4 linked regions of the Homo sapiens genome follow. The protein of the gene in region 4 purifies or fractionates together with the protein of the main gene of each other region. This does not show direct contact. Each region holds a gene or a part of one and is shown on either strand. Other genes may lie near its edges. The genes, in order: MAN2C1, KLHL18, ALDH16A1 and PCMT1.

Evidence for each region.
Region 1: the proteins of PCMT1 (region 4) and MAN2C1 purify together in Homo sapiens (affinity purification with mass spectrometry; 3 studies listed by BioGRID and IntAct, with this or other methods). This does not show direct contact.
Region 2: the proteins of PCMT1 (region 4) and KLHL18 purify together in Homo sapiens (affinity purification with mass spectrometry; 3 studies listed by BioGRID and IntAct, with this or other methods). This does not show direct contact.
Region 3: the proteins of PCMT1 (region 4) and ALDH16A1 purify together in Homo sapiens (affinity purification with mass spectrometry; 3 studies listed by BioGRID and IntAct, with this or other methods). This does not show direct contact.

The regions. Positions count from the first base shown.
Region 1 is NC_000015.10:75,355,271-75,358,620, reverse strand, and holds the end of MAN2C1 (alpha-mannosidase 2C1), read left to right. Parts: intron 1-2; coding exon 3-159; intron 160-276; coding exon 277-420; intron 421-1,505; exon of another isoform or gene 1,506-1,718; coding exon 1,719-1,828; exon of another isoform or gene 1,829-1,935; coding exon 1,936-2,015; exon of another isoform or gene 2,016-2,171; coding exon 2,172-2,320; exon of another isoform or gene 2,321-2,401; coding exon 2,402-2,511; exon of another isoform or gene 2,512-2,588; coding exon 2,589-2,715; 3' UTR 2,716-2,829; downstream 2,830-3,350. UniProt on the Homo sapiens protein: Cleaves alpha 1,2-, alpha 1,3-, and alpha 1,6-linked mannose residues on cytoplasmic free oligosaccharides generated by N-glycoprotein degradation pathways.
Region 2 is NC_000003.12:47,327,935-47,334,968, reverse strand, and holds part of KLHL18 (kelch-like protein 18), read right to left. Parts: intron 5,019-7,034; coding exon 4,820-5,018; intron 1,813-4,819; coding exon 1,652-1,812; intron 287-1,651; coding exon 150-286; intron 1-149. UniProt on the Homo sapiens protein: Substrate-specific adapter of a BCR (BTB-CUL3-RBX1) E3 ubiquitin-protein ligase complex required for mitotic progression and cytokinesis.
Region 3 is NC_000019.10:49,463,220-49,470,253, reverse strand, and holds part of ALDH16A1 (aldehyde dehydrogenase family 16 member A1), read right to left. Parts: intron 6,401-7,034; coding exon 6,305-6,400; intron 6,128-6,304; coding exon 5,991-6,127; intron 5,838-5,990; coding exon 5,732-5,837; intron 5,623-5,731; coding exon 5,492-5,622; intron 4,517-5,491; coding exon 4,349-4,516; intron 4,173-4,348; coding exon 3,971-4,172; intron 1,874-3,970; coding exon 1,688-1,873; intron 1,391-1,687; coding exon 1,268-1,390; intron 1-1,267.
Region 4 is NC_000006.12:149,801,721-149,808,754, reverse strand, and holds part of PCMT1 (protein-L-isoaspartate(D-aspartate) O-methyltransferase), read right to left. Parts: intron 6,556-7,034; coding exon 6,376-6,555; 3' UTR 6,339-6,375; exon of another isoform or gene 6,224-6,338; intron 5,631-6,223; exon of another isoform or gene 4,962-5,630; intron 3,453-4,961; exon of another isoform or gene 3,416-3,452; intron 1-3,415. UniProt on the Homo sapiens protein: Initiates the repair of damaged proteins by catalyzing methyl esterification of L-isoaspartyl and D-aspartyl residues produced by spontaneous isomerization and racemization of L-aspartyl and L-asparaginyl residues in aging peptides and proteins.

The sequences.
Region 1 (3,350 bases), on a different chromosome or scaffold from region 4:
AGGAAGCCTGTGCTGGGCCAGGCAGGGACCCTGGCAGTGGGCACCGAGGGCGGCCTGCGGGGCAGCGCCTGGTTCTTGCTACAGATCAGCCCCAACAGTCGGCTTAGCCAGGAGGTTGTGCTGGACGTTGGCTGCCCCTATGTCCGCTTCCACACCGAGGTAGTCGGGGGGTAGGGGGTGGCTGTTTTCCCCAAGTGTGCTTGGTAAGGAGGGGCCAGCCCCAGGCCTTGGTGTGTCTCTTCCTTCCCTGACTCCCACCCTCCTTCCCACTCCCAGGTACACTGGCATGAGGCCCACAAGTTCCTGAAGGTGGAGTTCCCTGCTCGCGTGCGGAGTTCCCAGGCCACCTATGAGATCCAGTTTGGGCACCTGCAGCGACCTACCCACTACAATACCTCTTGGGACTGGGCTCGATTTGAGGTCTGACATGGCAGGGTGGGAGTGGCCTTGGACTCCTCCCTGGCTGGGGAGACTGCTTGTGTGGAACAGGCTGGGGAGGAAGAGGATAATCAACATTTGCTGCTTCCTAACGTGTGTGCCAGGCATTGCACTAAATGCTTTACATTGGCAAGGCACAGTGGCTCACGCCTGTAATTCCAGCACTTTGGGAGGCCGAGGTGGGTGGATCACCTGAGGTCAGGAGTTCAAGACCAGCCTGGCCAACATGGTGAAACGCCATCTCTACTAAAAATACAAAAATTGGGCCGGGCGTGGTGACTCACGCCTGTAATCCCAGCAGTTTGGGAGGCTGAGGTGGGTGGATCACGAGGTCAAGAGATCGAGACCATCCTGGCTAACACGATGAAACCCTGTCTCTACTAAAAATACAAAAATTTAGCCGGGTGTGGTGGTGGGCGCCTGTAGTCCCAGCTACTTGGGAGGCTGAGGCAGGAGAATGGCGTGAATCTGGGAGGCAGAGCTTGCAGTGAGCCAAGATCGTGCCACTGCACTCCAGCCTGGGCGACAGAGCGAGACTCTGTCTCAAAAAAAAAAAAAAAAAAAATACAAAAATTGGCCAGGCGCAGTGTTCTCAGGCCTATAATCCCAGCACTTTGGAAGGCCGAGGTGGGCGGATCACGAGGTCAAGAGATCGAGACCATCATAGACAACATGGTGAACCCCCATCTCTACTAAAAATACAGAAAAATTAGCCAGGCGTGGTGGCACATGTCCTGTTATCCCAGCTACTCGGGAGGCTGAGGCAGGAGAATCGCTTGAACCCTTTAGGCGGAGGTTGCAGTGAGCTGAGATTGTGCCACTGCACTCCAGCCTGGCAACAGAGTGAGACTCCATCTCAAAAAAAAAAAAAAAGCCGGGCGTGGTGGCACATGTCCTGTTATCCCAGCTACTTGGGAGGCTGAGGCAGGAGAATCACTTGAATCCTGGAGGGCGGAGGTTGCAGTGAGCCGAGATCAAGCCACTGCACTCCAGCCTGGGTGACAGACTGAGATCCTGTGTGAAAAAAACAAAGTTTTACATTTAATTTGATACTCATGATCATTCGATGGGGTGAGTACTATTATTTATTCCCGTTTCACAGATAAGGAAACTGAGGCTTAGGCAGGTTGGGTGGCATGCCCAGGGCCCCGTACAGTGGGAGCTGGAGTTCAGTTGTGTGGTTCTAGAGCTTGTGCTCGGCCTAGTGACAGGAGCTCTGGAGTCTGGGAGCACAAAGAGGGGCACAGGGCCACCAAGTGGGTCTTGGATCTGCCCTCCAGGTGTGGGCCCATCGCTGGATGGATCTGTCAGAACACGGCTTTGGGCTGGCCCTGCTCAACGACTGCAAGTATGGCGCGTCAGTGCGAGGCAGCATCCTCAGCCTCTCGCTGTAAGTGGGGTACCCACCAGGCCTGGGAGCTGGCATGGAGAAATGGGTCTTCCCGACCACAACTCCAACAGCTTCAGCGTGGCCCCTACGCGCCCTCCTCACCCCAGCTTGCGGGCGCCTAAAGCCCCGGACGCTACTGCTGACACGGGGCGCCACGAGTTCACCTATGCACTGATGCCGCACAAGGGTGAGTGCTGGGGACGGTGGGGCCTTCCTGCAGCCCTAGACACCTCTCTGCCCTTCCCTGAGCCCAAACCCCAGCAACCTGGCTTCCTGCCCCTTCTAGGGACAGGGGAGGGTAGCCCCCATTCTCCACCAGCATTGTTTCCTGGTCGTACCCCAGGCTCTTTCCAGGATGCTGGCGTTATCCAAGCTGCCTACAGCCTAAACTTCCCCCTGTTGGCTCTGCCAGCCCCCAGCCCAGCGCCCGCCACCTCCTGGAGTGCGTTTTCCGTGTCTTCACCCGCGGTCGTATTGGAGACCGTCAAGCAGGCAAGGGGTGGGACGTGCTGGGGACGGGGTTCCGAACTGGGCCTGCCCTCGGCCCCTCCCACCAGACGTGTTCCTCTGCAGGCGGAGAGCAGCCCCCAGCGCCGCTCGCTGGTCCTGAGGCTGTATGAGGCCCACGGCAGCCACGTGGACTGCTGGCTGCACTTGTCGCTGCCGGTTCAGGAGGCCATCCTGTGAGTGGCGGTGTGGGATTGGGGCGGGGGTCGAGTCTCGCCCTCGCAGAGCCTTCATGGCCCCTCCTGTTCTCCAGCTGCGATCTCTTGGAGCGACCAGACCCTGCTGGCCACTTGACCCTTCGGGACAACCGCCTGAAGCTCACCTTTTCTCCCTTCCAAGTGCTGTCCCTGTTGCTCGTGCTTCAGCCTCCGCCACACTGAGTCCCTGGGGCTGGGGTTTTGTTTGTAGAAGGCTCTGGGGACTCCTAATTTCTGCTTCCCCAGCCTAAAGCAGGGATCAGTCTTTTCTTGTGGAATAAATCCTTGGATCGGGAACCCTGCTGCTCAGTCCCCTTAGGGCCCATCCTCACGCTTGGGGTGGGGGTGGGAAGTCTGGGGTGGGATGGCTTCCCAGGTATTTGGTGGGTAGGGGCAAGATCCTAAGGTACCTGTGCGTGCAGGGTCTGGGTTGCAGCCCCCACAGGAGAGACTGGGGACCTCGAGCCACCAAAAGCCAGTGAAGAGACCATGAGTTGAGAAGCCCCTCCCCTGTGCCAGCAGGTAAAGGGCCTGGGCCTGGGGCTGGGGAGGGGCCGAAGGGTGGGTTTTGCCTGGCTCCTGCCAGGATGAGGGGGCAGCCCTGGACCCTGGAGAATCTGGACTGGAGGAGCTCTGGCTCCTGGGCTGCCTGGGGCCAGGGTCTTTGTACCACCTCTGAGGGGCTGTCCTTGCAGAGGCAAACTGTCCTCTGATAGAGTCAGAGCCTTGAGGACTGGGATGGGGGCTCAGTTTGCCTTGTGAGGAGCTGGGCCTTCTGTCACCAGGACCGGACAGCAGGCCCTTCCTACCTGGCCATC
Region 2 (7,034 bases), on a different chromosome or scaffold from region 4:
CTAACTGTAGAGCAATTGTATAAAATCAAGAGGGGCAAGGGTGGTGACAGTACAAAACAGAGAAACCAGAAGGGCCAGGCTAATTTGTCTGGTGCTTCCTCATCCATGGAGTCCAAGAGGAGGGTCTATAAAGGGGAGCCGCAAGGTACCTGCTGAGTTGAGGCCCCCTACAGCGTAGATAAGTCCAGCGATGGATGTGCAGCAGCGTGGCCGGGTTCTGAAAGCTGGCAGGTGGGGCCGGCGCTCTGGCATGAGGTGGTAGTCCTTTGCTTCGTCTACCAGGTCCCTAGAATAAGGTGGAAGATGCTAGAACAGGAGGTATCCCCCTGACTTAGTCCTCGTTTGCATCTCTGAGCCTGGCTCTCCACTGCCAACTGCAGGGGAAACCTGGGAGGAGAAGCCTTCTGGAAGGTCTGGTCTCAAAGAAACCAGGTGAGTTCTGGGAAAATCATACATGGCTACTGAGATATACTCAAAATTAAAGGGGCAAGACAAGCAAAGACCACCTCAGCTAGTGTAGATTAGGCATGAGAAAAACAAGGTAGTGGCCAAAATGGCTGGACCTGGGAGTTTCGACAAGCAGCATGCACCCTGTTGCCACTCAGACCTAGCCCTTCCTTTCCATCCCTACGACTGCACCGTGGCTTGCAACCTGCAATTAATCACCACTCATCTCCACGGTGGCAGCTCCTGACACATTTCCCTGCCTCAGGCCTGCCCCTCCATTCCACTTCCACACTAGAGTTCAAGCTAAGAACCTTCAATAGCCACCCACTGCCGACAGAATAAAGTCCAAACTCCTCAACAGCACCCTTGAGACCGCTGGTCACTGGGCCCTAGCTACCTCCAGACACTACTCCACCCCATCCTGACACACACCTTCACACCATCTGCCATGGACAGGCACTTACTTCCTCCTGAACCAGCTGATCCCAACCAGGAGTTGGAAAATGAAAGAAAGCTGAATGTGTGTAAAGTTTTTATCAGCAAAGGAGAAAAAAATATTTCAGGGTTGTGAATTTGATAAGCAATCTGGAGGAGAATGAACATTTTTCTCTGCTGTTCTACTTTTACAGCAATCATCCTATAGGGCTGCCATCTTCTGAACTGTTTGGGTAACTCTGCTGTACCATGTTGTCATTGATTTGCTCTGGGTAAAAGTTTCATGTGTTGGTAAACATGTCTGCCCCTTGCCCATCATCGTAGATGTAAAGCCTACACCTGGCAGAGGCCCTCCATGCCCACAGCACTGACTAATATTTACTGAAGAGGGCAATGAGCCCCAGGAAGTCCCATTTGCGCCACTGAGTGAGCTGCTGGTGTGGACAGGGTCAGAGCAGGCAGTAAAGATGGTTGCACATTCATAAATAGCTCAGTGGGGAAAGATGCTGGAAAATCCTCAGATAACTCAGCAGGGGAAAGCCCTTTCTGCTTTGATGCTCCCACATGGCACATCTCTCTGCCCAAGGCATAAGATTCGGGCTCTTCACACTTCCTGTTCCAGCTTCTAGACAGAGGGCAGACCAATCTGTGTGCCATGAATTAGACTGATCACTCTAAATGCTTTCTTTCCAGAACTGGAACAGGTGGCCAACTCCTCTTCCCTGCTTAGACCTTTGGCAGTGTCCTGTGCAGGTCCACCCTCACTCACCTGCATTTGTGGCAGCAACGCACCAGGTCATCCTGCTGTACTCTGTCTGAAAGGAACTGGGGCCGACAGAGGGGCAGGCGGATATTGGACAGCAGCTCAGGCAGGTAGGGACCCCTCTGCTCCCGGTCGTATCTGACCCAGGCCAATGCAGCTTCAAAGACCTGTCATGAGAGTGGATGTTCTGGCAGCAAATCCTCCCACCCAGAGGCCACACCCCAGGCCTCCAATCTCAATGCCTCCACTTCCTATACTGAAGCAGTCCCTTGGGCCCATCAATCTTTTCTCCTACTTGTCTCTGAAATCCCTGATTTCTCTCTACTTCCTAGGCTACTAGAACAGCTTCCTGAATTTCATTATGATTATGATTTCCTAGTGAAAAATCATCAATGGCATCTTATTACTTTCTGTGAAAACAAAATGCCTGTTTCCCTTCCCGCTGCTCCTGTACCCCTGCTCCCTCTAAACTCCCTCCATCACCCTCTCTGTACTCCGGCAAGGCTGGGCTGGTTCTCCTGTTTACACTGTCCCCCCTCATCTAAAATGCCCTCATCTCCTCCTCTTCATCTAAACCCACTCCCCTATTTTTAAGGCCTGGCTCTAGATCCATGTTCTCCAAGGAGCCTTTCTTAATGGCTCCAACCACAAGGACCTCTCCCTCTAAAGCCCTACAGCCCTTATGAAATGTATCACTCAAAGAAATGTGAGCTGCCCCCCCGCCCCCCGTCATATTAATTAGTTTAAGAGCTAGGGACAGGACACCTAGTTTTTGGAATGAGGCTTTTTCCTCGAAACCACAGTGTCTATGCTGCCAAGCCCAGGATCCACTTTTCTCCCAGGCTCCTATCAAGCCCGCTTCACCTCTCTAGCATCCCCCTTTTCTAGAGGAAAGAGGAAAATAAATCATACCTTTTAATCCCTCCTCAAATTTCTTTTTTCTTTTCTTTCTTTCTTTCTTTTTTTTTGGAGATAGGGTCTTGCCCCATCGCCCAGGCTGGAGTGCAGTGGCGCAATCTCAGCTCACCTCAACCTCTGCCTCCCAGCTCAAGCAATCCTCCCACCTCAGCCCAAGTAGCTGGGATTACAGGCCAGGAGTTTAAGCTGGACCAGGCCTGGCTAACTTCTGTGCTTTTAGTAGAGATGGGGTTTTGCCATGTTGCCCAGGCTGGTCTCAAACTCCTGAGCTCAACAAATCTGCCCACCTTGGCCTCCCAAAGTGCTGGGATTACAGGCGTGAGCCACTGCTCCCGGCCTTCCTTAAGTTTCTAACCTTCGTCCCTCATCCTCACTCTCAGGTGAGAAAATAGAAAATCAGAAGAGAATTTCAGTAAGAATCTACCTGTCCCCCGTCCCTGGGCGTGTGCCCCAGCTCTCCCTCCTGCTACTGTGGATATGGATGGCTTGTGCTCCTATCAAAGATGCACACCCTTATGCCCTAGACTGTCCTCACTTATTCCAGAACATCATTCCAACAACTGCTCTCCCATTTCTCCAATATTATCAATTCTTCCCTCTCTTCTGGAAAACTCCCAACAGCAGTCAAATATGCTGTAATTTCTCTCACTTTAAAAAAAAAAAAAAAAGGTCGGGCCTGGCGCAGTGGCTCACGCCTGTAATCCCAGCACTTTGGGAGGCCGAGGTGGGCAGATCATCTGAGGTCAGGAGTTCGAGAACAGCCTGGCCAACATAGTGAAACCCCGTCTCTACTAAAAATACAAAAGTTAGCCAGGCATGATGGCGCACACCTGTAATCCCAGCTACTTGGGAAGCTGAGGCAGGAGAAATGCTTGAACCTGGGAGGCTGAGGCTGCAGTGAGCTGAGATTGTGCCATCGCACTCCAGCCTGGGTGACAGAGTGAGACTCTGTCTCACAAAAAAAAAAAAAAAAAAAAAAAGGCCTGGCATGATGGCTCATGCTTATAATCCCAGCACTTTGGGAGGCCAAGGTGAGAGGATCATGTGAGGCCAGAGTTCAAGACCAGCCTGGCCAACGTGGTGAAACCCCATCTCTACTAAAAATATAAAAATTAGCCAGGCATGGTAGCGGGCACCTGTAATCCCAGCTACTTGGGAGGCTGAAGCAGGAGAATTGCTTGAACCCGGGAGGCAGAGGTGCAGTGAGCTGAGATTGTTGCCACTGCACTCCAGCCTGCCTGGGCGTTGGAGCAAGATTCTTTCTCAAAAACAAACAAACAACAACCCCTCTTGATTTCACAGACCCCTCCCACAGCTGCCCCAATGTTCTGTTCTTCCTTAGAACAAGATTCTTTCAAAAAGTTATCTATACTAGGCCGGGCACAGTGGCTCACGCCTGTAAACCCAGCACTTTGGGAGGCCAAGATGGGCGGGTCACTTGAGGTCAGGAATTCGAGACCAGCCTCGCCAACATGGTGAAACCCCGTCTCTACTGAAAGTATAAAAATTAGCCTGGCATGGTGGTGCATGCCTGTAATCCCAGCTACTCAAGGAGGTTGATGCGGGAGAATTGCTTGAACCTGGGAGATGGAGGTTGCAGTGAGCCAAGATCGCACCACTGCACTCCAGCTTGGGTGACAGAATGAGACTCTGACTCAAAAAAACAACAAAAAAATTATCTATGCTTGCTGTTTCTGGTTCACAGGAGGATTATTTCTAATAGTAAATATTGGAAATAACCCAAACATGCAAGAATAAGGTGAGTAGGTTGACAAAAATCAACAGAATGCTATTTAGACACTAAAATGTATGGAGGCCAGGTGCGGTGGCTCACGCCTATAATCCCAGCACTTTGGGAGGCTGAACTCACTTAAGGACAGTAGTTCAAGACTAGCCTGGGCAACATGGTGAAACCCGGTCTCTACAAAAAATACAAAAACTAGCTGGGTGTGGTGGTATGTGCCTGTAGTTCCAGCTACTCGGGAGGCTGATGTGGGAGGATGAGGCTGCAGTAAGCTATGATCTTGCTACTGCACTCCAGCCTAGGTGACAGAGCAAGATATTATCTCAAAAAAATAAATAAAACATAGAAAGTTTTCATGAAAAATGCATGATACAGTAAAACAAGCCCAATAATATACAACAGCCACATACATGTCATGATCTTAACTTTGTAAAAAAATACATAAACAAAACAATGACTATAAAGAGCAGCATCTCATGTCACCTGCACAGACTGCTACTGGGCTCACATACCTGCTCCTCAGATTTGACATTCAGCTCATCCCGAGACACCAGCTCAAGCACGTCTTCCAAGGGCAGGGCCAGGAACTCTTCTGACATGGACACCTCCACAAAGTGCTGGTGGATGAAGCTGTTGGCAGCGTCGTACAGCACAGCACACATCATTGTCTCAGCAAACTGGCGCACACCCAGGCAGTTTTTTGGGTGAAGCCTTTGGCATAAGGAAAGAAAAAAAAAATTAGAGGAAGAAAGGATGTTATCTTTGATCATTCTCAGGCTGGTTCTGGGTAGAGCCACAGAATGAAAACAAATTCTTAACCTCAGCTTTGTTGGAAACTGTATTTCTCTGGGACTCAACTTCTAAAGGTATAAAATTAAGAAGAAAGATTATCCTCAAAGGTCCCTGCCTTTTGGGCCTGGTGCTCTGTGCGTCAGGTGGAATGAGCTCTCTGGGTAGTTCTGTAAAGTAACTGTCAGAAGGTGAGAAGTAACCATCACAGGAGTGCAGGCACTGAAAATCTGTTTGAGACGTTCCACCACTGAAATTCCTGGTTGAGTGTCCAGGGCATTATCTCAACTTTGGTCACAAGGAAGGCACTGAAGTCACAGAATTAGAGTTTAAAAAACACAGACAGGGCTGGACACGGTGGCTCACGCCTGTAATCCCAGCACTTTGGGAGGCTGAGGCAGGCAGATCACGAGGTCACGAGATCAAGACCATCCTGGCTGACACGGTGAAACCCCGTCTCTACTAAAAATACAAAAAATTAGCCGGGTGTGGTGGCGGGCGCCTGTAGTCCCAGCTACTTGGGAGGCTGAGGCAGGAGAATGCTGTGAACCCAGGAGGCGGAGCTTGCAGTGAGCCGAGACTGCGCCACTGCACTCCAGCCTGGGCGACAGAGCAAGACTCCGTCTCAAAACAAAAAACAAAAAACAAACAAAACAACAACAAAAAAAACACAACACGGACAGATGGCTTCTTTAGTATGGGAACTCTTATACTTGTCTTTTTTTTTCCTTTTTTTTCTTTTTTGAGACAGGGTCTCACTTTGTCCCCCAGGCTGGAGTGCAGTAGCGTGAACACGGCTCACATCACCCTTGACTTCCTGGGCTCAAGCGATCCTCCTGCCTCAGCCCTGCAAGTAGCTGGGACTACAGGTGCCACCATGCCTGGCTAATTTTTGTACTTTTTGTGGTAGAGACAGGGATTCACCATGTTGTCCAGGCAGGTTTGAACTCCTGAACTCCAGCAACCCACCTGCCTCGGCCTCCCAAAATGCTGAGATTTTTTCTTGTTTTAGATAGAAAGAGACTCCACGGGCCTAATTGTTCAGACAAGCAGAAACAACAGCAGCAGCTATCATTTATTTACCATCAGTGAGTCAAGTGTTTTGCTAGGCCTTTTATACACATTCTCCAGAATCTTCTTAACCTGTAAAGTAGTAACGCACTCACAGATGGAAAACAGGCTCAGGGAAACCAAAAATGGTGCTCACAGTCCCTTGAGATAAGCAAGTGGTGGTGCTGAGATTGAAATCAGGACTCTTGTGCACATTCCCACGGTAGCCTGGCAGACTTACACTCATCAGGGCTAGAGAAACCCAGGATAAATCCTGGCCCTGATGCTCATGGGGCAACTTGGGTGGGTTATGTTCTTCCAAGTGTCAGTAATTTGCTCACCTGAAAGAAGATGATGACAACAGCTACCCACCTCTTAGGGCTGAGCCATGATACATGGTACCTGGTATGAAGTTAATGGCTGTCTTAATTTTTTATTATGGTTGTTTTTGTTTTTTGAGACAAGGTCTTATTCTGTCACCTAGGCTGTAGTGTAGTGGTGCAATTATGGCTCATGATAGCCTTGACCTCTTGAGCTCAAGTGATCCTCCTACCTCAACCTGCCAAGTAGCTGAAACCACACACCTAGCTAATTAAAAAAAAAAAAAAAAAGTGTTTTTTGGTAGAGAAAGCATCTCCCTATGTTGCCCAGACTGGTCTCAAACTCCTAGGCTCGAGCAATCCTCCTGCCTTGGCCTCCCAAAGTGCTGGGATTACAGGCATGAGCCACTGTGCCCAGCTTGTTTTTCTTACTACTGTTGCATCTAAGAAAATTCCAAACGAGCCCAGTGCGATTCTAAAATCTTGGTGACAGCAGCAGACCCTGGGGGATTCTTATTTGGCTCCATGACTGATTCTCTGTAGGGATGGTATTGATCAGATTAAAAAT
Region 3 (7,034 bases), on a different chromosome or scaffold from region 4:
ACCTGCTTCCTCCGCGATGAAGACTGTTACTGACGAGGGGCTTCAGGCTGGACCCAGGCTCTGCAGCTACAATGCCCAGCTCCTCCCAAGCAGAACTTCCAGATGGTAGGGAAAAGCACTGGACCCAGTGGTTAGGGAATTTCCTCTCCCTTAACAGCCCATGTTGAAAGGAATGGGCCCCAAGGCTCTTGTCAACAAGTTCACATCTGTTACCAACAGGAGGTTTAAGAGAGTGGACGGTGGGGCGCGGTGACTCGCTCCTGTAATCCCAGCACTTGGGGTGGCTGAGGCGGGAGGATCGCTTGAGTTCAGGAGTTTGAGACCAGCCTGGACAATATGGCGAGACCCCGTCTCCATTTAAAAAGTAAAAATTGGTTGGGCACAGTGGCTCACGCCTGTAATCTCAGCATTTTGGGAGGCTGAGGCAGGCAGATCACGCGAGGTCAGGAGTTCGAGACCAGCCTGGCCAATATGGCGAAACCCCATCTCTACTAAAAAAAAACCCCCAACAATTAGCTGGGCATGGCGGTGAGTGCCTGTAGTCTCAGCTACTTGGGAGGCAGGAGAATCACTTGAACCCGGGAGGCAGAGGTTGCAGTGAGCCAAGATCGTGCCACTGTATTCCAGCCTGGGCGACAGAGTGAGACTCTGTCTCAAAAAAAATAAAATAAAATAAAATAAAATAAAAAAAAAAACAGTAGACTCAACCAGTTGTGCTGGCTCACACCTGTAATCCCAGCACTTTGAGAGGCCGAGGCGGGCAGATCACTTGAGCCCAGGAGTTCAAGATCAGCCTGGCCAACATAGAGAAACCCCAGTCTCTGCAAAAGAAAAAAATTAGCTGGGCATGGTGGTGCACGCCTGTGGTCCCAGCTACTCAGGAAGCTGAGGTGGGACGGTGGCTTGAGCCTGGGAGGTTGCGGCTGCAGTGAGGTATGATTGCATCTGGGTGACAGGGTGAGGTTCTGTCTCAAAATAGAAAAACAAAGCGTAGACTGTGGGCCTCCAAATCTAGGGTGTGGTCCTTAGCAACGGGCTGTCCCCTGAGACGAGGTCTTTGGGCTAGGCAGCTCTCAGGCCCCTGTTGCTAAGGACAGCCTCTTCCTTAGTAACTTGAGTCCTAAGGGCGGGGCCTCAAAACCTTCTTGTCAAGGAGTTTCTCCCCTTACCAACAGGAGTTCTAAGAGGGCGGGGCTGTGTTTCCAGAAAAGGAGGAGCCTGTTTGAAGTTTGAGATGCTGAAGATGGCAAAACAGAACAAAGAGCACCTGGGCTGATCCGAAATACCACATGGCCTGGACGTCTTGGTGCAAGGCCAGGCAGCGGGTCAGATGGTCCCGGTCTCCTGTCACCACGTTGGCCAGGCCTGCTGGGAACACGGTGGCCATGTCCTAGGGGATAGAGAGAGTGAAAGGTTGGGGAGGCCGTGGGGGCAGGGCAAGGAGTGGGCATTCAGGGGGTGCCCATGGGAGGGAAGGGGATGGGGGGTCATGGAGGAGAAAGCCCCAGGCCTAGGGTGAAGAATGGGCACTGGGTCCCCAAGGAGTGAAGGTTTGGGTGCTGGGGCTGGGGGCAGCATGGGTACCACGGAGGGTGGGGTAAGAGACAAGCTCCTGCCGACTTTGGGGCGCCTTTTTCTGCTGCCCTGAGGCTACGGGGAGGAGAGGCAGGAAGGCAGGGGGCTATACCTGGCAGACCTCCAGGGCCAGCAGAGGACAGGCCGCACTGGGCACCATGACCACAGTGTTGCCGTAGGCCAGGGCGGGAGCCAGCAGGGACACGAAGGCAAGCAGGGGCCACTCGTCCGGACACACCACAGCCAGCACACCCAGCGGCTCCCGCAGGCGCAGCACAGGGCCTCTCAGCCCGGCTACCTGCAGGGACAGGTGGGTCACGTGTGGGGCAGGGGAGCCCCGCCCGCAGTAAATGAGAGATCCAGTTCCTCTACATTCTCCCCAACACTTGGTGTTGGCCCAAACCGCACCATTGTGGAAGCCCCTGCCATTTCGCAGACGCTGGTCAAAGTGAATCATTCCACGGGGGTTCGGGCGGTGAGAAACATCCTGCATAACCGCCTTTCTTTTTTTTTTTTTTTGAGACGGACTCTCACTCTGTCGCCCTGGCTAGAGTGCAGTGGTGCGATCTTGGCTCACTGCAACCTCCGCCTCCCGGGTTCACGCCATTCTCCTGCCTCAGTCTCCTGAGTAGCTGAGACTACAGGCACCTGCCACCATGCCCGGCTAATTTTTTTTTTTTGTATATTTAGTAGAGACGGGGTTTCACTGTGTTAGCCAGGATGGTCTCGATCTCTTGACCTTGTGATCTGCCCACCTTGGCCTCGCAAAGTGCTGAGATTACAGGCGTGAGCCACTGCGCCTGGTCTATTTTCTTTTGTTAAAAATAAATATGGTGTTGGGGGGTGGGAGGCAAGGGGAGGGAACTTAGAGGGCAGGTCAATAGGTGCAGCAAACCACCATGGCACGTGTATCCCTATGTAACAAGCCTGCGCGTTCTGCACATGTATCCCAGAACTAAAGTAAAATAAAATTTAAAAAAAAGAAGGCCGGGTGTAGTGGCTCACACCTGTAATCCCAGCACTTTGGGAGGCCAAGGTGGGCGGATCACGAGGTCAGGAGATCGAGACCATCCTAACATGGTGAAACCCTGTCTCTACTAAATATACAAAAAAAAAATTAGCCGGGTGTGGTGGTGGGCACCTGTAGTCCCAGCCACTCGGAAGGCTGGGGCAGGAGAATGGCGTGAACCTGGGATGCAGAGGTTGCAGTGAGCCGAGATTGCGCCACTGCACTCCAGCCTGGGCGACAGAGCGAGACTCTGTCTCAAAAAAAAAAAAAAAAGAAAGAAAGAAATATGGTTTGGCCCATGATATAGTTCAGATGTCCCACCCAAATCTCATGTTGAAATGTAATCCCTGGCCAGGCGCAGTGGCTCACGCCTATAATCCCAGCACTTTGGGAGGTCAAGACAGGCGGATCACTTGAAGCTAGGAGTTCAAGATCAGCCTGGGCAACATGGCGAGTCTCTTGTCTCTGCAAAAATACAAAAACACCCAGTCATGTGTGCTGGTGTGTGCCTGTGATCCCAGATACTCAGGAGGCTGAGGTGGGGGGCTCACTTGGACCTCGGAGGTTGAGGCTGCAGTGAGCCATGATTGTGGCACTGCACTCCAGCCGGGTGCCAGAGGGAGACTGGTGCCAACATGCCCAGCTAATTTATCTATTTTTTGTGGAGACAGGGTTTCACTGTGTTGCCCAGGCTGGTTTCAAACTCCTGGCCTCAAGCGATCCACCCACTTTTGCCTCCCAAAGTGCTAGGATTACAGGCGTGAGCCACCATGTCTGGCCAGGTATTTTTTGTTTTTTGTTTTTTTTTGTGACACAAGGTCTCACTCTGTCACTCAGGCTGGAGTGCAGTGGCACGATCTCGGCTCACTGCAACCACTGCCTCCTGGGTTCAAGCAATTTTCCTGCCTCAGCCTCCTAAGTAGCTGGGACTATAGGTGCCCACCACCGTACCCAGCTAATTTTTTGTATTTTTAGTAGAGACCAGGTTTCACCGTGTTGCCCAGGCTGGTCTCGATCTCCTGACCTCGTGATCCGCCTGCCTCAGCCTCGCGAAGTACTGGGATTACAGGCGTGAGCCACTGCGCCCCCAGGTGTTTCTTTACAGCAATGTGAGAACCGCCTAACAGCCCACTAAATTGATTTTAGGGTCCAGGAATGGGTCGCTATCCATCATCTGGCGAACGCTACTCTACGAGGCGGGTTGTGTGCCCACTCACTGTACAGATGAGGGAACTGAGGTAGGGAGAGGTGAAGCCACTTGCTGATGATCCTGCCGTGGAAGGCGGTGGGGCTGGGCCCGAATTCCAAGCCTGGGTTATCTCACAGCCTCTGGTCTGAGCCCCACCCCGCCTGCCCAGCTGGCCCAGGTGCCCACAGACCCTTCACCTGCAGGGTGTGGCCTTGGGCCTGCACCCGGGCCCCCCACGCCCGAAGTCGTCTTGCGCTCAGCTCCACCTCCGCCTCCGCAGCCTTGAGCTCCGCTCCCTGCCTCTCCAGCCTCGAGGCCAGGGTAGACTTCCGGCGCTCCAGTGCAGCCGCCAGGGCCCACAGCAGGGCTGCCCGGGCTCCTGGGGACTGGCCCGCCCAGCTGTGGGCAGACAGCGCACAGTGGGGGTTGGCATCCTGGTCTTGGCTCTCCTGACACCCCACCTCTGTCCACAGCCCCTACCCTGGGGGCCCAGCCTCCCAGTCCACCAATTGCTGTGGGCAGGCTCCCCTCTCTGCCACACCATGACCCTTGGGCTTTCCCGTGTGACCCCTTACCCAGGGAAAGCCTGGTGAGCGGCCTCCACAGCACCTCGGATGTCCTTGGCTCCACCCTCAGCCACGTAGCCATGGAGGTTGCCAGACGAATCCCGGATGGGCCTGGAGCTTCGGGCCCCAGGAGCCTGGAAACGGCCCCCAACGAAGAGCCCATAGGGGGGTGCTGGGCTGGAGTAGGGTGGGACATGAGGAGGAGTCCTGGGGCCTCAATCTGCTCAGACCCTATGCTCTACCGCACTGGGAAGACTGCCTTGGCTCCCGTGAGCCTCTGGGGCACCCCAAACCCCTGTTCCCATGAGCCTCTGGGGGACCCTAAAACTCCTGCTCCCATGATTCACTGGGGGACCCTAAACTCCAGCTCCCATGAGCCTCTGGGGGACCTTAAACTGCTCCCATGAGCCTCTGGGGAACCCCAAATTCCTGCTCCCATGAGCCTCTGGATGACTCAAGTTTCTGCTCCCATGAGCCTCTGGGGGACCCCAAACCCCTGTTCCCACTAGCCTCTGGGTACCCTAAACTCCTGCTCCCATGAGCCTCTGGGGGACCCTAAACTCCTACTCCCATGAGCCTCTGGCAGACCCTAAACTGCTCTCATAAGCCTGTGGGGCACCCCAAATTCCTGTTCCCATGAGCCCCGGAGGACCCAAAGCTTCTGCTCCCATGAGCCTCTGGAGGACCCTAAGTTCCTGCTCCATGAGCCTCTGGGGGACCCTAAGCTCCTGCTCCCATGAGCCTCTGGTAGACCCTAAACTGCTCCCTTGAGTCTCTGGGGGGACCTCAAACTCCTGCTCCCATGAGCCTCTGGAGGACCCCAAGTTTCTGCTCCCATGAGCCTCTGGGGGACCCCAAGCTCCTGCTCCCATGAGCCTCTGAGGGACCCCAAGCTTCTGCTCCAGTGAACCTCTGGGGGACCCCAAGCTCCTAGACCCATGAGTTTCTGGGAGAGTACAGACATTCATGGGGCAGAGCTGAGAGTCTCGGCAGGCCTGGGGTAGGGAAAGTGTGAGGCCACAACGTGGTACTCAGCAGGACTAAGAGATGGTTTGGATGGACCTCGCGCCAGCCCTCCAGTCCACGGGGAAACAGGCATCAATTCCCCTCTCCCCGTTCACACTCCCAGACCACTGGCCCCCAACGACTCACCTGGGCCCTATTTCAGGCCCAGCCGGCAGGGTTGAGGGAACAGCGAGGCCAAAGGTGTCATAGTTCAGGTTCTTGGAGAGGCAGGACAGCCGGGCAGGGGTCCCTGAGGGCCGCAGATACTCATACAGCCCCTGTGAGAGGGACGGTGTCAAGAGGATGCAAGGGGCACGCGAGGCCGGATGCGAGTGTCAAGGGCATGGGGCGGCGGGGGGGCTGGTGACGGGGAGGGGATGTACTCACGTCTGGGCCCCCGTGCCAGGAACACCCACTCTCCTTGCAGCCGCCTGTGGGCACCGAAGGGTCTCTGAGGCCGTGGGCGTTGATCCAGACAGTGCCCACCTGGAGCCTGTGGGGAAGATGAAGGTGTCCAACAGAGGAAAACAGACGGTGGCAGGCCGGGAGAGGGGTGAGTTAAAGGCGCGGGGAGCGACCCAGGGAGAAGGGAGATGAAGATGGAAGAATGAGGAGAGGAGTGAGCGCCCGGGCCACGCAGACTGACCCATAGCCCAGCTCCAGCGCCTGCCCCAGCCTCTCGCTCCACACACTGGCGCTGCCCCCGCGGGGCGTCCCGTTGGCCACCAACAGTGCCTCCTTGGCTGTGCGGAAGGGGGAGGCCACGACCACAGGCCACGGCACCTGCAAGGGGTGACCGGGAGGCTCAGCCCTCCAGGGCCCACCCACCAGGGAAGGAGCCTAGAGCAGGCAGCAGCCCCCACGCCCAGGTCACATGGTTACCCCAAGGGCTTCCCCAGGCACAGAGCTGCTGCCCTTGGCTGGCGGTGGGTAGGAGCTCTGCAGCCTTAAGGGTCTCACCTCCACCTGGGCACATGGGGAGGCTGGGGGCAGGTTGGAGACCAAGGTTGGGGGATAGAATGGGCGTTCCGAAGGCACATCACCAGCCTGGAACACCTAGGGAGAGAAATGATCTAGAAGTCGACTTCTGGTCCCTTCCTGCTGAGACCGAGGACTGCAGGACCCCAGCCCCTCCTCCCTCAGACCCAGGAGTCCAGGCCCCCAGCCCCTCCTCCCTCAGACCCAGGAGTCTGGACCCCCAGCCTCTCCTCCCTCAGACCCAGGAGTCCAGGCCCCCAGCCCCTCCTCCCTCAGACCCAGGAGTCTGGACCCCCAGCCCCTCCTCCCTCAGACCCAGGAGTCCAGGCCCCAGCCCCTCCTCCCTCAGACCCAGGAATCCAGGCCCCAGCACCTCCTCCCTCAGACCCAGGAGTCCAGGCCCAGCCCCTCCTCCCTCAGACCCAGGAGTCCAGGCCCCCAGCCCCTCCTCCCTCAGACCCAGGAGTCTGGACCCCCAGCCTCTCCTCCCTCAGACCCAGGAGTCCAGGCCCCCAGCCCCTCCTCCCTCAGACCCAGGAATCTGGACCCCCAGCCCCTCCTCCCTCAGACCCAGGAGTCCAGGCCCCAGCCCCTCCTCCCTCAGACCCAGGAATCCAGGCCCCAGCACCTCCTCCCTCAGACCCAGGAGTCCAGGCCCAGCCCCTCCTCCCTCAGACCCAGGAGTCCAGGCCCCCAGCCCCTCCTCCCTCAG
Region 4 (7,034 bases):
TGAGGCAGGAGAATCGCTTAAACCAGGGAGGCGGAGGTTGCAGCAAGCTGAGATCACGCCACTGCACTCCAGCCTGAGCGACAGAGCGAGACTCCATCTCAGAAAACAATAATAATAATAATAATTTACTACAATTTACCTGCTGCAAGACATTAAGTATACTGTAAATAAATTAATGCCCCCTCAACAACATAGGTACCATTTTTCCAACTATCCTCTCTGTCTAAAAAATACTTTAAAAAAGGAAAAGAAATTAGGTTTATAGACCTGAATTTTAAAATTAGAGGTGCTAGGGAAAAACAAAAACTTGCTGCCAGCGCGTGCACAATTTTTTAAAAGCCTAATACTCTAAAATCCATGTAACTTTCAAGTTATTAAATTTTCCCCAATGTTCAAAATTCTGTATGACCATTTCTTTATCTGACTTACATGTATAGATCATTTACAATAAAAAATAGTATGTACTAAATTTTTAGAAAGGCTCTTTAAAATTGCTATATACTATGCTAAATATATTCATTAGGTTAATAACTGTATATATTTCTACTAGTATATAATTATACATAATTTAATTATTTATTAGATTTTATTAACTCTATGATACTAACATTTAGTCTTATACATTCTTTACCAAGAATAAATGAAAAGATATACTATAAGGAAACAACAATCAAAATCCATGAACGTTTTCTAATAATTTCATGGATCTTCCAAGGTAATAAAAGTGTTGTACAATTTGCTTTGTACGAAGCACTATGAGAGACAAAAAGAATTCCAAAAGTAACAGAATATATCCCTGCTTTTAAGGATGTAATGTATGTCACAATACTGGAACATATGTAAAGAGATTAAAAAGGAACAATATAGAATATGGAACACGGGATCAATTGGATCCCTTAGCACCAATACTGTCAGTCTTGGAAATGCAGTCAATTCCTAACATCTTTTTCATAGATGCAAGGCACTTTAAGAAGACATCAATAAACAAAGAGCTTATGGAATAATAAACTTGAACATTCCTCAGTTTCACAAACTAAAGATGGACCAATTACACTAACTCTTGTGACTACTAAAAACAAAAATAGTCTGGGTGTGGTGGCTCACACCTGTAATTCCAGCAGTTTTGGAGGCTGAGGCGGGTGGATCACTTGATGTCAGGAGTTTGAGACCAGCCTGGTCAACACAGTGAAACCCCGTCTCTACTAAAAATACAAAAATTAGCCGGGCCTCGTGGTGCGTGCCTGTAGTCCCAGCTATGCGGGAGGCTGAGGCAGGAGAATCACTTGAACCCAGGAGGCGGAGGTGCAGTGAGCCAAGATCGCATCACTGCACTCCAGCCTGGGTGACAGAGCAAGACTCTGTCTCAAAAATATCTATAAATAAATAAAAATAAAACTTTTACCAGAAGATTAACAAAATATTTTTACATATAAATTATTTATTTAAAATAAAATAATACTTAAGAACTATTAACTTTCTGTAGCAACTAATACAACTATTACATGTCCATAGTCATGAACACAATTCCACAGATTCTAGGTCTCTGGCCTATAGATCTGGCATTGTCTCCCCTTCTATTAATCCACCAAAATTACAAGTGACATCTTTCCAAGTGTAAAAAGACTCAAGTCTACATTCAAGTTTGGATCTTTACTTGGTACTAGAATTCCACATGTCCACTAATTCTCATTTTTAAAAATACAGTTTCTGCCACATCGCCTCAGCAAAAATGGGATCTCACCCTCATCAGAGCACCGCAATTAGCTCTGGATTATTCCTCAGTAAGAAAGGTGGAAAGCTGGTGAGACACAAGAGAAGGTTCCTAGGAAAGTATTATAATGAGTTAAAGTAATCCTGAAGAAAGTTTGAGGCTGGTGGCTCAAGCCTGTAATCCCAGCACTTTGGGAGGCTGAGGTGGGTGGAACGCTTGAGCTCAGGAGTCCGAGACCAGCCTGGGCAACATGGCAAAACCCCTTGTCTACAAAAAAAACAAGAAAATCAGCTGAGTATGGTGGCACACCCTGTGGTCCCAGCTACTCAGAAGGCTGAGGCAGGGGGGATCGCTTGAGCCCAGGAGGTTGAGGCTGCAGTGAGCAGAGATCATGCCACTGCACTCCAGCCTGGGTGACAGAGAGAGACTGTATCAAAACAAAACAAAATAAAACAAAACAAAAACAAAAACGGAAAGTTTGAAAGAACAGAAATCACGTAGCCTGGCAAGAAGTTGACTAGGGAACTTTTTAGATGATAATTCCCAGAAAACAGTGACAGTATTTTAGATGTAGCTATCCACCCACTTCTCTCTATCCTTACTAACACTGCCTTAATGCAGACCATCATTTCATCCTTGAATTGCTATAACCACTTCCTGTTTCTGACTCGACTTTTGTCCCTTCCCAGGCTAGTCTCTACATAACAGCTAGAGTTATCTTTCTGAAATGTAATTCTGACCACTTCAATGCCTGGCTCCCTACCGCGAGTCTGAACACTACCCTATAACTGCCTATTCATCTTGGTCTTTGCATCTCCTACGTTACTGTAAGCTCCATGAGAGCAGTCAGTTTCAAATTCACAGCTGATGACTCCTGGCACCTAGTACAGTGCCTGGCCTAGTTGGCATATGCATATTGGTTGAATTCACGAATAATATTAAGAAGATCCTCACGCTGAAAAATATTTAGCAACTGAACAAATGGCCAAAGAAAAGCATCTACAACAGAAAAATTAGAAAGTCCTCCTGGTACACCTGGAGAAATTTTTTTTTTTTCTGATAGTGCGAACATGTAAGTTTGCTCAATTTTTTTTTTTTTTTTTTGAGACAGAGTCTTACTCTGTCGCCAGGTTAGAGTACAGTGGCACAATGTAGGCTCAATGCAACCTCCACCTCCCAGGTTCAAGTGATTCTCCTGCCTCAGCCTCCCGAGTAGCTGGAATTACAGGTGCCTGCCACCACGCCCAGCTAATTTTTGTATTGTTTTTTTAGTAGAGATGGAGTTTCACCATGTTGGCCAGGATGGTCTCGATCTCCTGACCTCGTGATCCGCCCGCCTCAGCCTCCCAAAGTGCTGGGATTACAGGCGTGAGCCACTGTGCCCAGCCTAAATTTGTTCAATTTTTAAAAAACTTTGAAGGTCAAAAAGAAAACCAGGTATACATTTTTTGAGACGGAGTCTCGCTCTGTTGCCCAGGCTGGAGTGCAATGGCGCGATCTCAGCTCACTGCAAGCTCGGCCTCCCAGGTTCACGCCATTCTCCTGCTTCAGCCTCCCGAGTAGCTGGGACTAGAGGTACCTGCCACCACGCCCGGCTAATTTTTTTGTATTTTTAGGAGAGACGGGGTTTCGCCATGTTACCCAGGATGGTCTCGATCTCCTGACCTTGTGATCTGCCCGCCTTGGCCTCCCAAAGTGCTGGGATTACAGGCGTGAGCCACTGCGCCCAGCCTAAAAGCAGGTATACATTTAATGTTTAGCAGATGACTAATTGTCCATAAATTTAAAAATTATTCTAAATATATTTTTTAAAGATAAGGTCTTGCTCTGTTGCCCAGCCTGGAATGCTGTGGTGATCACAGCTCACTGCCGCTTCTGGGCTTAAGTGATCCTCTTATCTCAGCCTCCCAAGTAGCCAGAACTAGAGGTGCACACCACTACGCCTGGCTAGTTCTTAAATTTTTAGTAGATACGAGGTCTCACTATGTTTCCCAGGCTTCTCTTGAACTTCTGGCCTCAAGTGATCCTCCCACCTCAACCTCCCAAAGCATTGGGATTACAGGCATAAGCCACCATACCTGGCCCTATTTTAAATTTCTTAATACAAATAGTTTGGTTTTATCAAAGGTGGATTCAGGTTTTGTGGGGGCCTAAGGTTTATATAATTAGAAAACAGGGGAACCTTTTTATGAAGTTAAAAAAAAAATCAGTAAGACTATGCATAATATAAAATTAAGAACAGGGCCAGGCATGGTGGCTGACACCTGTAATCCTAGCACTTTGGGAGGCCGAGGCGGGCAGATCACCTGAGGTCAGGAGTTCGAGACCAGCCTGGCCAACATGGTGAAACCCCTTCTCTACTAAAAATACAAAATTTAGCTGGGCGCCTATACTCTCAGCTACTTGGGAAGCTGAGGCAGGAGAATTGCTTGAACCTGGGAGACGGAGGTTGTAGTGAGCTGAGATTGCACCACTGCTCTACACAGCCTGGGTAACAGAGCAGGACTCCGTCTCAAAAAAAACACTTTTTTAAATTAAATTAAATTAAGAACAGGGTCAGAGAAAACCTAGACAAGCAAGGGCTCTGCAGCTTCAGCTTTGTTAGCTTCACAGTAAATCTACCTCTAGTCATAAAAACAAAATTCCCTTTTTATAATTCCTTCATAATTATAAATTATAAATTATAGGCAAGATGTTCAACACTAATATTTATTGTATATAAAAAGAAAAATTTCTAAGTTGCTAATGAAAATCAACTCTTCTTATCAAATTTCAGTAATTTCAGTAACATATTTGCCCCTTTTATACTACAATAATCTCACAATTATGTAATTGTATAAACCATACTAGAAGCAAAGTGAAGGAAGGTTTTAGTTAGTTGTTAATAACTACATCTGATTCCAGTTGAAAAAACCAGTAATTTTTTAAATGCCTTTTTAATTTTTTTTTTTTTTTTTTTTTTTGAGACAGAGTCTCGCTCTGTCACCCAGGCTAGAAGGCAGTAGTGTGATCTCGACTCACTGCAACCTCTGCCTCCTGGGTTCAAACAATTCTCCTGCCTCAGCCTCCTGAGTGCCTGGGACTACAGATGCAAGCCAACATGCCCAGCTAATTTTTGTGTTTTTAGTAGAGACAGGGTTTCACCATGTTGGCCAGGCTGGTCTCAAACTCCTGACTTAAGATGATTGGCTCACCTCAGCCTCCCAAAATGCCTGGACTAAAATGCTTTTTTTTTTTTTTTTTTTTCCAGTGGCTGTGCTCCACGTATAATTCACAGAAAATAGCTATTGGTGAAGAATAAAAACAACATTGAGAGATCTATTAAACTTATTATCACCCCTTTTACTTATTAAGAAACTAATTATTTTAAAATAAGAATCTTTATGTCAAATAAAAATAAGATGCTAAGACAAGGAAACTGTAAAGCCGTTCTTGTTTTGGCATTTAATTTCAAGTAATTTGAGCTAATGGCACTGTTATGTACTGATGTCACTCTCTCTCATGGAAGGGAGTGGGAAGGGGAGGAAAAGAGAAATCTTGGCTTCAAACAAAATATTCAGATTATGCTGAGACATAAAACAAAAGTGGACATTCTTTATAAACCATGCTGTGCTGAAAGTTGCTGCATGCTGCTGACCCTCTGGGTGGGTTTGTGAGACCTGGGCACTCATTGGGTAACTTGTAGAATCCTTGCCTCTTCCTAGGAATTTAGCCAGAATAGCTTAAACAGTGGCTGGCCTATTCTATAGAATGGGGAGAAGGTGACTCTTAAACAAGGCTGAATGAAAAATAGGCATGGGCTGTCAGGTATCTATGATTTGGTTGAAACAGATAAACCAAGCTGAGAGGTAGAATGTCCTCTCTGGTATTCTGACATTTTAGAAAACTGAGACGACCGTTATCTTTCCCCTTCTTTCTCCTTGTTGGTACAATAAACAGGGCAGGAAATGATGGCCCCTTGTTTTTTTTTTTTTTTTTTTTTTTTTTTTTTGAGACAGAGCCTTGCTCTGTCTCCCAGGCTGGAGTGCAGTGTCAAAATCTCGGCCCACTGCAACCTCCGCCTCCAGGGTTTAAGCAATTCTCCTGGCTCAGCCTCCCGAGTAGCTGGGATTACAGGCCTGTGCCATCACGCCCAGCTGATTTTGTATTTTTAATAGAGACGGGGTTTCACCATGTTGGCCAGGCTAGTCTCAAACTCCTGACCTCAAGTGATCCGCCCACCTAGGCCTCCCAAAGTGCTGGGATTACAGGCATGAGCCACTCCGCCTGGCCTCTTTTACAGACCAAACTCATTGTTTCCATGCCCATCCAGTGCTATAAAAATAATTTAAAAACATAAAAACAGAGTGGCTGATAATGAAGAAAAAATCCTTACAAAGTACTGAATTGAAGCTGAAAGTCTCTCTAAAAAAAAAACAAACAAACAAACAAAAAAAGCCTTTGTGCCAACCAAGTCTCACCCTCCCTTTCCCAAAGATATATATGTTAAACCAAAATAAGGGCAGACCATGCAACATTTTTCACATTTTTAATGTAATGAATTTCTGACGTTATAATGGAGGAGCATAAAGGTGACAACCAAAAACAGCTCTTGTAGTCTAATGTCTTAAAATCCACACCCTTTCACCTTGCATGTGTGGAAGAAGAAAGAGCAGAAGATAAAATCACTTCCACCTGGACCACTGCTTTTCTTTATCTGTTAAAGGCACGTATATCACCCCCATCAGAGGCTTCATTTTGATGCTGCCATCTTGTAGCTTGTCATACTGCTCCAACATTTGGTTTCCGCCTGCAGGACCAACAGGCAATATCAATCTTCCTCCGGGCTTTAACTGATCTATTAGCTAAAAGAAAAAAAAAAAAGCACATACATCACCAAGTTACAGATTTTATTTTATTTTATTTATTTATTTTTGAGACAGGGTCTCACTCTGTCGCCCAGGCTGGAGTGCAATGACACGATCTCAGCTCACTGCAACCTCTGCCTCCCAGGTTCAAGTGATTCTCCTGCCTCAGTCTCCCAAGTAGCTGGGACTACAGGCACACGCCACCATGCCCAGCTAATTTTTGTATTTTTAGTAGAGACAAGGTTTCACCATATTGGCCACACTGGTCTCGAACTCCTAACCTCAAGTACTCCACCCACCTCGGCTTCCCAAAGTGCTTGGATTACAGGCGTGAGCTACTGTGCCCGGCCCAGATTTTATATTAATAGTCATTTGACATCATTATAAACAACTTTTAGTGTCCATAGGCAGAAAGCAGAAACGTTCTTTATTTAGTATATACAAATTAAGGCCAGACACGGTGGCTCACGCCTGTG